Linked DNA regions of Homo sapiens: all the other regions are linked to region 3. Evidence: fine-mapped expression QTL. A gene starts in region 3. Each other region holds a variant in brackets. All regions are shown on one strand. Distances are between the middles of the regions.

The links.
Region 1: its variant is fine-mapped to the expression of DMTN in nasal epithelium (TOPMed, PIP 0.95).
Region 2: its variant is fine-mapped to the expression of DMTN in prostate (GTEx, PIP 0.97).

What each region holds. Positions count from the first base shown.
Region 1 is chr8:22,078,610-22,081,271 of GRCh38, forward strand. DMTN (dematin actin binding protein) reads left to right here. Exons shown (of 16, transcript NM_001387751.1): 11 at 1,571-1,635; 12 at 1,803-1,851; 13 at 2,009-2,016; 14 at 2,196-2,261; 15 at 2,504-2,584. Among named protein-coding and RNA genes, the nearest start is that of FHIP2B, 9.2 kb to the right of the region's middle. The variant T/C (reference allele first, on the strand shown) is at 1,547.
Region 2 is chr8:22,417,661-22,420,317 of GRCh38, forward strand. SLC39A14 (solute carrier family 39 member 14) reads left to right here. Exons shown (of 9, transcript NM_001128431.4): 8 at 1-175; 9 at 1,892-2,657. The coding sequence ends at 2,038. Among named protein-coding and RNA genes, the nearest start is that of PPP3CC, 22 kb to the right of the region's middle. The variant A/G (reference allele first, on the strand shown) is at 1,222.
Region 3 is chr8:22,055,610-22,058,282 of GRCh38, forward strand. DMTN (dematin actin binding protein) reads left to right here and starts at 1,205. Exons shown (of 16, transcript NM_001387751.1): 1 at 1,205-1,527. RefSeq lists an enhancer at 2,323-2,673.

The DNA.
Region 1 (2,662 bases), 23 kb after region 3:
GGAAAACATATTACTGGAAACAAATTTTCCTGAATTATAATCTGTAGTACTTCAGAATTTAGAGATCCTATTAAATGTGCAAGTTGAGACTGAGGTCCAGTAATGCTGATGTGAAGTTGTTGACTGCTGGTACAATCCCCAGTGACAGTGCTTAGAACATGACTCTTTCTGTAGTATAATGTCAGACTGTTTTTTTTTTTTTTTTGAGATGGAGTCTCGCTCTATCACCCAGGCTGGAGTGCAGTGGCGTGATCTCCGCTCACTGCAAGGTCCGCCTCCCAGGTTCACGCCATTCTCCTGCCTCAGCCTCCCAAGTAGCTGGGACTACAGGTGCCTGCTACCACGCCCGGCTAATTTGTTTTGTATTTTTAGTCGAGACGGGGTTTCACCATGTTAGCCAGGATGGTCTTGATTTCTTGACCTCGTGATCCACCCACCTCGGCCTCCCAGAATGCTGGGATCACAGGTGTGAGCCACTGTGCCCAGCCTAATGTCAGACTTTTAAAATTTGATTACTAGGCCAAGCATAGTGGCTCACACCTATAATCTCAGCACTTTGGGAAGCCAAGGTGGGAGGATTGCTTGAGCCCAGGAGTTCAAGACCAGCCTGGGTACCATAGTGAGGCCTGGTTTCTACAAAAAATAAAAATAAATAAATAAATAAATAAATATATATATATATATATATATATTAGCTGGGTTTGATGGCGCATGCCCCTAGTCCCAGCTACTGAGGAGGCTGAGATGGGGAGAATCACTTGAGCCTGGGAGGTTGAGGCTACAGAAAGCTATAATCACACCACTGCACTTCAGCCTGGATGACACACGGAGACCCCATCTCAAAAATAAATAAATAAACAAACAAACAAATATGAATACTAGCTGAGCAGGTGGCCCATGCCTGTAGCTCCAGTACTTGGGAGGCAAAGGCAGGAGGATCACTTAAGTCCAGGAGTTCAGGTTCAGCCTGGGCAACATAGTGAGACCCTATCTCTATTAAAAATTTTTGGCCGGGCACGGTGTATTTTTTAATAGAGACAGGGTTTCTCCATGTTGGTTAGGCTGGTCTTGAACTCCCAACCTCAGGTGATCTGTCCACCTTGGCCTCCCAAAGTGCTGGGATTACAGGCATGAGCCACCACTCCTGGCCAAAAAAAAAATTTTTTTTTTTTAGATTTGATTACTAACATTGTTAATAAAATTATAATAATGTAATTATTGTGATTCGATTTTAGTTTTCTTTGTGTATCCCAGAGGTTCATTTTATGATGTGAGCCTTGGCTCTGGCTGACTCAATTTTCACATCAGGCATTGGGCCCAGTTGTATATTTGGGCCACTTCTAGCTGGAGAGAAGAGGGATGGTGGTAGAGACAGCTGAGAACCACCAGCACTGTATTGCTTGCTGAAGGTGACCAGTAGGAGCTGGGAGCTAGCAGAAGCCCACCAGGTTCCCCCCAGCGTGATCCCTTCCTGCCCTGCCCCAGCTGTGGAAGGCCAGTGAGGTTGCTGTCTCAGGAAGGGCTGTCAGGGCCAAAGGGACTGAAC[T/C]CAGGACCTTTTGCTGTCTTCCAGCCTTGCACCAGGGAACGTCTAAATCTTCCTCTCTCCCCGCCTATGGCAGGACCACCCTGAGCCGGGTAAGGTCTCAGGACCAGAGATATAGACTACGTGGGAGGAACGTGCATGTGGGGTGCTGAGGGACTGAGCCACTTGGGCACCCTCAGGGAGCGGGGAGACCCCCAAAGTGAAGGGGACCAAAGGTGAATATCCCCGACTGCCTCTGATTCCTTTGTGTCCTTTCTAGCTACAGTCCACAGAGTTCAGCCCATCAGGGAGTGAGACTGGAAGCCCAGGTGAGAAGTGGGGCCTGGTGCCGGGGTCTGGAGAAGGGGCTTACACAGGTCCCTGGGCAGCCGGGGTCTGGGCTGTGGGCAGGGGTCTGGTGAGGTCAGGCGTGTTGGCCTGCTGACCTCAGAGCTGCATCTGACCCATGCCCCTTCTCTCCCGCAGGCCTGCAGGTGAGTGCCTCCTGGAGGGGAACAGGCAGAGCAGCAGAAGCTGGGTCCTGGCACCCGAAAGTGTCAGGGGAAGGGGGGTGTGGGGCCACAGAGTTGCCTGGTGAAGAAGAAGAAGCCGGGGTAAGGCTGGGAAGGTCTCCCTGCCCCGCTCTGGCTCACTGCGGCTTTGGTCTCCCCAGAACGGAGAGGGCCAGAGGGGGAGGATGGACCGGGGGAACTCCCTGCCCTGTGTGCTGGAGCAGAAGGTGAGGGGCAGGGGACACAAGCGCCTGTAGCGGGGCGGGAGGCTGGGGAGATGCCAGGCAAGTGGAATGTGCTGCGGGGTCTTCCTGGTGTTGAAGATGGGAGGGATGGCAGGGAAGTTGGGGGAGACAGAGGGCAAGATGGCATGAACCCCAGTGGCCTCTGCAGGTTGATGTGGGAGGCCTAGGGAGTCGAAGGACAGGATATTCTGTGAGCCTAAGATTGCCCCTCCCCCCACCCCCAGATCTATCCCTATGAAATGCTAGTGGTGACCAACAAGGGGCGAACCAAGCTGCCACCGGGGGTGGATCGGATGCGGCTTGAGGTAGGCAAGGAAGATGCCCTGGATGGGTGCGGGGCTGTCCACGGGCACTCTCCTGCCTGGGGGAAGATCTGGGGCCTC
Region 2 (2,657 bases), 360 kb after region 3:
CATCCTGCTCAACGCTGGGATGAGCATCCAACAAGCTCTCTTCTTCAACTTCCTTTCTGCCTGCTGCTGCTACCTGGGTCTGGCCTTTGGCATCCTGGCCGGCAGCCACTTCTCTGCCAACTGGATTTTTGCGCTAGCTGGAGGAATGTTCTTGTATATTTCTCTGGCTGATATGGTAAGTGTTCCACAGTTCACTGGATGAGAGGGCGGCTAAGGGGATGGATGTTAGGTAGGTAGTTTTTTTTTATTTTTATTTTTTTGAGATGGAGTCTCACTCTGTCTCCCAGGCTGGAGTGCAGTGGCATGATCTCAGCTCACTGCAACCTCCGCGTCCCGGGTTCAAGTGATTCGCCTGCCTCAGCCTCCTGAGTAGCTGGGATTACAGACGTGTGCCACCACGCCTGGCTAATTTTTGTATTTTTAGTAGAGATGGGGTTTCCCCATATTGGCCAGGCTAGTCTCGAACTCCCGGCCTCAGGTGATCCACCCGCCTCGGCATCCCAAAGTGCTGAGATTACAGGCATGAACCACCGCACATGGCTGGTAGTTTGTTTTTAATAACATCTTCCTTAGCTTTCTTTCACATACCACAGAGTTCGTCTGTTTAAGGTGTACCTACCATTCAGCGGTTTTTAAGGGGGCATTAGATTTTAAAGGAGGAAAAGTTTATGTTTTTGTTAGCATATGTCATTAAAGAAAATGATTATAATTTATCTATGGTCTTTATTAATTATTATGGAATGGCTGTATATAGATAAGAGACAGAAGAAAGGAAAGAAAATTACGCATAATCATACATCATACTACCCCTAAAACAATAATAGCAATACTTTGGTTTGTTTCTTTTTTTATCTCAATGCATTGGGTGTGTCTTTTTCTTTAATTTTTTTTTTTTAGACAGAACCTCACTCACCTAGCCTGGAGTGCAGTGTGTGATCATAGGTCACTGCAACCTTGAACTCCGGAGCTTAAGTGATCCTCCTCCCTCAGTCTCCCAAGCAGCTAGGACTACAGGCTCCAGCCACCATGCCCAGCTAATTTTTTGAATTTTTATAGAATGGGGTCTCTATGCTGCCTAGGCTGGTCTTGAACTTGTGGCCTCAAGGGATCCTCCCATCTCAGCCTCTCAAAGTGCTGGGATTATAGGTGTGAGCCACTGCATCTAGCTTGTTAATAATATCTTGATAACAAAAAGACCTCTTAAAGTGTTTAAAGTCCATA[A/G]TAAGGCCAGGCATGGTGGCAGGCACCTGTGGAGCTACTCAGGAGGCTGAAGTGGGACAATTGCTCGAGCCCAGGAGTTTGAGGCTGCAGTGAGCTATGTTCGCACCACTGCACTCGAGCCTGGGCAAGAGCGAGTGGAAAAAAGGAAAAAAAAAAGTCTATAATATAAAGTTTATTTTTTATCAGAGTACATTTATTTTTAGCCAGCCTCTAAACTCATCCAGAGCCACATACACGTTGAGTACTTTGTTTTACCTAGACAGTTGTAAAGACATGGTACCTGCTATTGTTAATTTTCTTTTTTTGTTTTGTTTTGTTTTGGAGATGGAGTCTCGCTCTGTTGCCCAGGCGGGAGTGCAGTGGTGTGATCTCCATTCACTGCAGCCTTGCCTTCCGGGTTCAAGCAATTCTCCTGCCTCAGCCTCCCAAGTAGCTGGGACTACAGGCCTGCGCCACCACGCCCAGCTAATTTTTATGTTTTTAGTAGAGACAGGGTTTCACCATGTTGGTCAGGCTGGTCTCGAACTCCTGACCTCTAGTGAGCCGCTGCACCTGGCCCTGATAATTTTCTTTGTCAACCAACCTGATCTATATCTCCATCACTGAATTGCCCTGGACTTACAAGATGAAGAAGGAATTGCAGCTGTGTTGTTTCTTGCTTCTTTCCCAGTTCCCTGAGATGAATGAGGTCTGTCAAGAGGATGAAAGGAAGGGCAGCATCTTGATTCCATTTATCATCCAGAACCTGGGCCTCCTGACTGGATTCACCATCATGGTGGTCCTCACCATGTATTCAGGACAGATCCAGATTGGGTAGGGCTCTGCCAAGAGCCTGTGGGACTGGAAGTCGGGCCCTGGGCTGCCCGATCGCCAGCCCGAGGACTTACCATCCACAATGCACCACGGAAGAGGCCGTTCTATGAAAAACTGACACAGACTGTATTCCTGCATTCAAATGTCAGCCGTTTGTAAAATGCTGTATCCTAGGAATAAGCTGCCCTGGTAACCAGTCTCTAGCTAGTGCCTCTTGCCCTCTCCTCACCTCCTTTTCTCTCAGTGACTCTGGAACCTGAATGCAGCTTACAAGACAAGCCTGACTTTTTTCTCTGATTACCTTGGCCTCCTCTTGGAACCAGTGCTGAAAGGTTTTGAATCCTTTACCCAACAATGCAAAAATAGAGCCAATGGTTATAACTTGGCTAGAAATATCAAGAGTTGAATCCATAGTGTGGGGCCCATGACTCTAGCTGGGCACCTTGGACCTCCAGCTGGCCAATAGAAGAGACAGGAGACAGGAAGCCTTCCCATTTTTTCAAAGTCTGTTTAATTGCCTATTACTTCTCTCAAAGAGAACCTGAAGTCAGAACACATGAGCAGGGTGAGAGGTGAGGCAAGGTTCATCCTGAATGGGAGAGGAAGTCGAACCACTGCTGTGT
Region 3 (2,673 bases):
CTGATGCTTCATCCCCCACCCCCAGGTTTTCTCTACCTTCACAGCCACCCCCGCCTGGCTGCAGCAGCTCAGCCTGTGTTCTGTCTCCCTTCTCAGCCACCTGCCTCCTTCCTTCCTCCCTTCTCTCTGGAGCCCATCCCTCAGGTTACTGTCCTCTCTGTCCCCACCAGCCAGATACTTTCTGTCCCCTCCTGGCCTCTTCCCTCAAGCCCCTCCCCCTGTGCTTCTCCATTCAGACACCCCAGAGCCCCCTCCCCAGATTCTAGATTTCCCCAACAACAGCTGATACCATCAGCTGACCGGCTGGGGGCAGGGTTGCCAGGGCAACGGTGAGGGCTGCCTAGGTAGGCAAGTCTGCGGTGTGGAGGTGGAGAGGACATTGGGGCCAGGGCGAGGGTCGAGGGCAAGGCTTGTTGTCCTTCCCCATCCTGCCCAGGGGGCCCGAAAGGCCAATGAGAGGCTCCTGGGGTGGTTGAGGCTTTGCTAGAGACAGGGAAGGCACATGCCTGTAAATTCTGTGCTGGGACCCAGGGGTTACCAGGCAGGAAGCTCCTTTTTCATGAAGCCACCCTAGGGAGAGATGGGGTCCTTCTCTCTCTCTGCTGCATCCCATTGGAGTTCCCAGGGGATTCAGGTTACTGAGGGGCCAGCTCAAGTCTCAGTACTGAGGACCTGGTTGCATCCCTCCATTCTACCCTCCCAGGAGAGAGCTCATCCTTGGGTAACCAATTCTGGCCTGTGCCTGCACCCCCACCTCAAGAGGCTGGGCCCCAGAGGCCTCAGTTGCTGCTGTCAGATGGTGGGGTGGTCATGAATAGGGTAGGAGGTGCAGGTGCCTGGAGAAAGCAGGCATTGTCCGCCTGGGTCATCAGTAGCCCCCTCCCTCGACCCACCGCCCACAGCAACTTGAACTCTGGCTGTTTAGGAGGAGGCTGAGGGGCTCTGGGTGCGTGTGGGTGTGTGTGTGCGTGTGAGTGCTGCAGACTGCGGTGTGGGAAAGGGAGAGGACAGTGCTGGCTGATTCTGCTTTGTCATGACGCTGGGTTAATGCTCCTCTTGTTTGAAATGGATTGAGCTGCAGCGCTGGTGGAAGAGCGCGCACATCCACACACACACCCTTGCCAGCCACACGCTATCAGCTGGAAGTGGGGAGGGCGCGGGGAGGGCGTGGGGGAGCCAGCAGCCCGCCCGCCCTCCCGCCCCCAGACGAGGACTCCCCAGCACCGGGGGATCCAGGCGGCCGTGCGTTGCAGAGAAGCAGGGTGGGGGCAAGGAGGGTGGGGGCCCAGAGGGGAGATCAGACCGCTCAGCCGAGACCAGCTCCCCTCCTTCGCCAGCTCCCACCCCGCCCACCCACCCTAAGCCGGCATTTTTCCTGTTATTTGTGCTCCGGGGAAGCGCCGCGGGGTTCCTGGAAGAGACACCTATTACCTAGGCTCCTGGGGGAAGTGACAGCCCGTGGATCTGGCCTACGCCTCTCGGGCCTCTGTGGCCTCAGAGCGTCTGGGCCACACTGTCTGGGAAGAGGTAGGTGGCAGGGTCTCCGCCTCTCCTCCCCTCTGTGGGCACTCTGGGCCACAGCGCTTGCTGGCGAGCCAGGCTTTGGGTGGCAGCAGGGTATCTGGGGGGAGCCCACTGTGGGCCCTGTTCAGTGGGAGGATGGGCCGGCCCCTGGGACCAGCTGGGCCTGATCTAATGGAACCTTCTGATCTGGGGAAGAGGGCCTGGGGTGTTCTCATCCCAAGGATGAGAACTGCTCCCAGCCCAATCCCCTCTTTGCCAGCATCTCTGCCTGGCCTACCTAGCTGAGCAGGCCAGCAATGGAAGGGATGGACTGTGGGGGCACGGGGTGGGCAGGGGAGCATTCCCTCTCTGCTGAATACTGGCCCGCTGGCCTCCCCAAAACCACTCCACATGCTCTGGGGGTTGGAGCAGTACATTTAGGGGCCTGAGGCTGTTTGTTTGGAGCCTGCTTTTTAGGGGGAGTGGGAGGAGAGCCTGCCCCCAGCCAGTGGCTGGCCAGGCTGGGGTGGGGCTGAGTGAAGAGTGAGGCTGTGGCAGGGCGCAGCTGCAAGCCCAAGCCCAGTACTCCCCCTGTGCCCGCCGCTGGGGTGCTTGAAGGGGCCAGGGCTGAGCAGACATGCAGCCCCCACAGGGTTCTGGGGCTCCCCCTCCCTAGCTCTGTCCCTCAGGGCCTAGCAGGTCCAGCCCCCTTTCTTGGGCAGACACACCCAGTGTGTCCCTTCCAGGGACCAGTTGCCTGGTTGTGAGAGTCAGGGGAGCAGGGACAGGTCCAAGACAAGGAAGGCAGTTGGGCTGTGGGAATGGGGAGCCCAGGGAAGGCCTCCAGAGCTGGGTAAGTGGAGGGCTCTGTGTATGTTGCTGTACACGTGCACTACTCTGGGATGGATGCCAGGGAGAGGACCGGTGGGTGGGTGTGAGCGGGTGTTGGCAGCACCATGTGTCACAGTGAGGGGGCCTCGATGGGAGAGTGGGGGCATGAGCTGGCACACAGGGCTTCGGAGTCTCCCCGCGTGCATGCGTCCTGCAACGGTTTCAGCGCGGGCGCTTCTGCCTGTGCCCACCTGTCCATCTTGTGTCCGTGCTGCCGGCCTCTCTGTGGTCAGGCGTTAGACTCCTGGGTGAGGTTGTCCACCCGTGGGTGGATGTCTG